Regions from separate parts of the Homo sapiens genome. Here region 1 is linked to region 2. The links come from fine-mapping of genetic effects on gene expression. A gene starts in region 2. The other region holds a variant in brackets. All regions are shown on one strand. Distances are from middle to middle.

What was found. PIP is the estimated chance that this variant, and not a neighbour inherited with it, causes the effect. A credible set is the group of variants that fine-mapping cannot tell apart.
Region 1: its variant is the best candidate, but not a certain one, in a credible set for the expression of RASGRF1 in prefrontal cortex (GTEx, PIP 0.89).

Annotation. Positions count from the first base shown.
Region 1 is chr15:79,031,824-79,034,723 of GRCh38, forward strand. RASGRF1 (Ras protein specific guanine nucleotide releasing factor 1) reads right to left here. Exons shown (of 27, transcript NM_001145648.3): 7 at 300-493. Among named protein-coding and RNA genes, the nearest start is that of RASGRF1, 58 kb to the right of the region's middle. The variant C/T (reference allele first, on the strand shown) is at 1,324.
Region 2 is chr15:79,089,060-79,091,959 of GRCh38, forward strand. RASGRF1 (Ras protein specific guanine nucleotide releasing factor 1) reads right to left here and starts at 1,721. Exons shown (of 27, transcript NM_001145648.3): 1 at 1,164-1,721. The coding sequence starts at 1,439.

The sequences.
Region 1 (2,900 bases), 57 kb before region 2:
AGGCTGCCCTTTGGTCACAGACTCTAACTTGGAGGCTCTTCCAGGGTCTTGTCTAGGGCTCTGCTCTGGCTGAGGGTGGGGTGGGGTGCTCAGGAGCCAGGAGAGAAAGGTGGCGTGGACAGGCCCACAGTCAGCTTGCCCTGCACCCAGCATTGTCGGCTGCTGGCCCTGACCACCTCCCCCGCCCCCTTTGGCAGCCCAGAGCTGGGGTGCGTTAAGCACTGTGCCCCCACCGCCATGGTCCATCCCCCACACCTGCCTCCCTGACTCTACCCCACCCAGGCAGGGCCGGACGCCACCTGGAACATGGGGTAGGTGAGGAAGGTCTCCAGCGTCCTCTCCTCGCAGTCAGGCTTGGCCTCGTAGTGCTTCAGCAGCTTGTCGAAGTCACGGTTCTGCTTGCAGTGGGCCAGGATCTGCAGGCTGTACTGGTGGTTGCGGACGAACTCTTGGTAGATGTTGAGCATGGGCAGCAGGATGTCAAATAGGTCAGCTGGAAGGACGAGGCAGTCAGCGGGTGGCTAGGGCAGCTTGGTGGGGACAGAATCCCCTAGGCCCTTGGCTCCCCCAGCTACACCCAGAGAGGCCAGGGGCCAGGTTCAAGTTCCCCACCCCAGAGACATCTCTGCTCTTGGGGATGACTCCAGTACCACTGCCCTATCCAGTGCTAGTAGGTGGGCCCCCATCATTGGGACCACATTAGAATCACAGACTCTTAGAGACGTGGGGCCCTGTCTAGTCGACACTTGTGATGGGAGTGTCAGAGAGAGGAGGTAGAGTGGGCGCTGTGGGGTGCCACCTGGATCCCCCCAGCTGCCAGGAGTGCTGGTGGCCGATGGCTGTCAGCTGGGTCCCTCTCCAGGCATTGCCCTCAGCTGGAGGAAGCTGCCTTGCCTGGTCTGTCCTCCTGCTTCAATTCAGGACACCAGTGTGAGGTCACCCCTTCTCCAGAGCTTCCTGTGGGGTCGGCTGAGGCTTCTGTTGCAGCTGGAAGGCTGCCCAGTTCCTCCCTCTGCCTGTCCCCGTGCCCTATGGTGCTATGGCCTAGGACACTCCCCAAGAGGCCACCCTCCCTCCTGCAGTCTCCGTCCTGAGACAGAAGTGGCCTATCTGAGGTCACAGGGCAAGTCAGCAGCCGGCCTGGGGCTGGGTCTCCTGACCTCCTGATTCCAGGGATTTCCTACCATATGACACATGAGTCTCTGCTCCTTCGTTCATCTGCCATTGTCCAAGCAGGGCTTCCAGGCTCTGCATTATCTAGTTCACCAGGTGGGGCCCTTTCTGCCTATAGTTCTGTCTCAAGCTTCCTGGGTATATACTTTG[C/T]CTTTCCAGTGCCCCCAAGTCCCAACCAATCTCCCCAAATCTGCCCTTCAACGATTTGATAGGCTGGGATGGGGTCATGTGAAACATCTTCCTTATCTTTATTTATTTATTTATTTGATGGAATCTTGCTCTGTTGCCCAGGCTGGAGTGCAGTGGTGCGGTCTCGGCTCACTGTAACCTCTGCCTCCCGTGTTCAAGTGATTCTCCCACCTCAGCCTCCCAAGTAGCTGGGACTACAGGTGTGCATCACCACACCCAGCTAATTTTTGAATTTTTGTGTTTTTTGTAGAGATAGAGTTTTACCACGTTGGCCAGGATGGTCTTGAACTCCTGCCCTCAAGTGATCTGCCTACCCTGGCCTCCCAAAGTGGTGGGATTAAAGGCGTGAGCCACTGTGCCTGGCCTTGAAACATCTTCTTCTTCTTTTTTCTTTTCTTTTTTTTTTTTTTTTTTTTTGAGATAGAGTCTCGTTCTGTTGCCCAGGCTGGAGTGGAGTGCAGTAGTGAGATCTCGGCTCACTGCGACTTCTGCTTCCTGGGTTCAAGCAATTCTCCTGCCTCAGCCTCCCGAGTAGCTGGAACTACAGGTGTGCACCACTACACCTGGCTAATTTTTGTAATTTTAGTAGAGACGGGGTTTCACCATGTTGGCCAGGCTGGTCTCGAACTCTTGACCTCAGGTGATCTGCCTGCCTCAGCCTCCCACAGTGCTGGGATTAAAGGCATGAGTCACCGTGCTCGGCCAAAACATCTTCTTATAAGTCCCATTTAAGAAAGGAAACATGGTTTCCTTGTAATCAACTTTAGAGGGTAGCTCATGTGATGGGTGTCTGACCACCTGACGGACAATGTCTTCAACAATGCAACTGCAGAATATGCGGACCCCATCTTTCTAAGGACACCTTATTTTGACCTTAGAGAAAAACACGGGTCTTTGACTTGAGAAAAATAATAGTGCCTACTTCCCCCTGGGAAGCCTCCATGCCTGAGGGCAAGGGAGCTCTGGAGAGCCAGGCCTGGGTCTGCTCTGTGCCCTCCACCTATGCAGCCTTTGCTATTCCTTTACTTCCCTAAGCCATTTTCTTTGCCTCCATCATGGAGATGACACCAACACTCACCTTTATCTACCAAATTAAGAAAGTGAAAAAAAAAAAGAAAGACATTTGGTGTAGGTTGAGGGTGAGATGCAGGAGGTTCTTCTGTCTGTTGCTTGTGGAACTAGAGCAGTGCAGCCATCTTGGAGAACAATGGGACAATATGTATGAAGCAAGAGCTTTTCACATGTTTGGATTCTTTGTTTTAGCAATTCTGCTCATTGGAAACCCATCCCAAGGAAATGATCTCTAATATGGAGAAAATTTCTTATGAAGAGATGATTACTTCTAACAATAAAAAATTGGAACAACTCTAAGAGCCAACCATAGCAGATGGTTAGATAAATGACAGTGCCTTCATGGGTACTGGAGTATTACACAGCGATCAAAAAGCATGCTTTTGGCATGAGAAAATGCTTATGGGATAATGCTAAGTAAAAGAAAAAAAAAACAACACACAGCAAGATACAAATTCTATATTCAG
Region 2 (2,900 bases):
CAATTCAATCACCACCAGTCTGTGTCTTCATGCAGCAGTGGCTTTTGAGATCTCGGTTGTCTTTTCAGAACATTGGGACGGCCTCAACAACTTGCATGACGCTGGGCAAGTGAATTTCTCTCTCTGGGCCTCAGTGTCCCCATCTAGGCAATCACCAGCCGTTAGGCCCTATGGATGGAAGGTTCCTGCCTGCAGTGGCATTTTAGGATCCACTATCATCTGCTTTATCTTCCTAGTGGCAAGGGACTGGACCAGATGCTTTTGGAAAGCGCACCAAGCTTAAAGGTGGCTCTCTCTGCAGGTGCCCCTCCTCCCTTCACGCCAGAGGCTCACCCCCACCCCGCCCGGGCTCCCTGTTAGAGCCAGGCCTGGCTCTTCAGCCTTGCAGCTCAGGAAACCAGAGCGCAGCGCTATAGCCGCGACTGCGGCGGCGGCGGCGGCGCAGGGGGCGGGGGAGGAGAGAAGCGCCCACTTCGTCCCGCTGCCTCCGCAGCAGCCCTGGCCCTAGCCCCGGCGCATCAGAGCGGTCCTTGGGAATCTTTGGGCTTGTTGCTCCGGCGGCCGCCAGCTGGGAGCCCACCACCGCTCGATGGTACCGAACCGACCCGTGTAGCCCCATAACCCCAGCCCAACTCCGAGGAGCTAGCGCAGACCGCTCTCCGCCCTCAGCTGCGGCGAGGCAAGGGCTGGCAGCGCTCGGACGCCTCCGTCTTGCCCTTCCCATGCCTAAGCGCGGGGAATTACACGTTCCCGGTGTAGAACAGACGATCGGGGCTATTAGGGCTGGGCGGTGGGAGTGGGGGTTGGGAGCACCATTTTTGGCTGGACGTGTGTCCAGACTCATCGTCTCTGGTCCTTAGGACCCCATCTTCCTCTGCATCTCCAGGTGTCGGCCCCTCTGTACCCGCCTCCCACGGGGCTCGTCCGGCGAAGGGCAGCCGCAGCCCACATCTACTCCCCGCCCTCAATCCCTGCCCCCTCTGCCCGCCGCAGTCACTCGCCTGGCTGGGAGCAAGCCTCCCCTCTCGCTGAGGGTGCAGAGAGCGCCTAGGGCGCCAAGAGTAGAGGGGCCAAAGTTCAAGCGCCATCAGCCAGCCGAAGGCCCTGAGCCCCCAGGGCCGCGGCCGGGACGCAGGGAGGTCAGGACGCGACGCTCGCCTCACCTGTTTCTCCAGCGGCTCCTTGGCCGACAGCGCCGGCTTGGGGGAGGGCGCGCGGTCGCAGACGCAGCCCTCCAGCAGGTAAAGCCCCGAGGGCCGCGAGCTCGAGTCGCTCTCGAAGTAGAAGAGCAGGTTCTGCAGCAGCGCGAACCACTTGGTTTGCCATTTTGTGTTGTCCGAACTCCGCTTGCTCAGGTAGCCTTTGCGCGTGCCGTCCTTGCGCGCCAGCAGTCCCAGGGACGCGACGTGGCCATCATTCAGCCGGATCCCCTTCTGCATGGTGCTCAGAGGCCAGCGAGACCCCACGCGCTTACATCTTCTCCGCGCAGCAGCCCCCCGTCCGTGCGCGCTGCGCGCTGCCTCTCTCTGGCGCTCGCTCGCTCGCTCCCTCTAGCTCTCCCCTCCCCCCAAATATCTACACTCCAGGATCTGGCGCCGAGCCGCGGCTTCTTGAATCCAGATATACCATTCCCCGCTGGAACCTCTTCTCCGCTCCGCAGAGCCCCAGTACCCGGAAGATGCCGCCCGACCCTCCTCCGGTGCCGGGCAAACTGAGGGACTGGCGATCTGCGCGCTGGCGAGGGGCAGGCGGAGTCATGTGACGCCGATCCCTCGAAGAGCCCGTTTCAGCAGCGCGGACAGGGACACACGCACGCAGCCCCGCCGAGGCGCAGAGCCGCGCGCAGGCTGCAACTTGGTGCCTCCTCCCCCTCCCCAGACACACACACACGCACACGCACACGCACACACTCAAACCCTGCCCTCCCTCCCCTCATCTCCCCTTCTCTCCCTCGGATGTTAAAAAGCAAATCAGATCAATTTTCGTTTAACCCAATGAAACCCCGAAGGCTCGCCATCCCGGGAGTTTGCGTCTTTGCGCCCCACCGCGGCGCACTGTAGACCTGGGGTTAAGTGCCAGTTGTCATTTTCTCCTCCAAAGGCTCGCCCCCCCCCCCCACTTTATTTCTAATACGAGGTGGAAGGAGGAAGGTGGGTGGCGAAATAGAGCTGCAAAAGCGTCCAGTCCTAGTCTTTGCATAGTCAGCCGGGTCACATTGAATTCCAGCATCCGGCTGCACTCCCGGCGGCTTCCCCAGCTACCTGAGGACAGTACAGGGGGTGAGATGGGGTGGTGGTTGGTGAACGTTGGTTACTTTATTTTATATTATTTTATTTTGAGAGTTGCCATAATTACCGGCGCCACCCCCCGTGCACCCTGAGGTCTGGTTGGCGAGCCGCTGCTGGGAGTTTTCTGCAAATACCCCCCAAAGCCTGAAGGCGGGCTTCAAACGCAGGCGCCGGGGACCATGGGAGCCTTCAAATAGCTGCGCTGGCGCAATGATACCTTAATGATAGATTTTCCGTTCTTATTTTTAGCTCTCATTCGCCTACACAGTTACACGGCATTTATCCGAGAACGTCACAGCGCCCGCATGCTGCACCGGGAGGGCGCGCGGGCCGCCGGGCGAGCCGGGAGCTGGGGCGGGGAGCGCGCATCGCTGTCTGCCGCAGAGGGCAGCGAGCTCGCCCCGACCCGGAGCAAGCCGCGCCTGGCCCGGGCGCTTTGCAGCGGGGATGGGTGCCCGCGCAGCCCTGTGAAGGAAAGACACCATCTTTCCGCACGGAAACTGCGTATACCCCTCCCCCGACACACACACACACACACACACACACACACACACACACACACACCCCACACTCACACACAGCACACACCACACACGCACAGATACACACCAC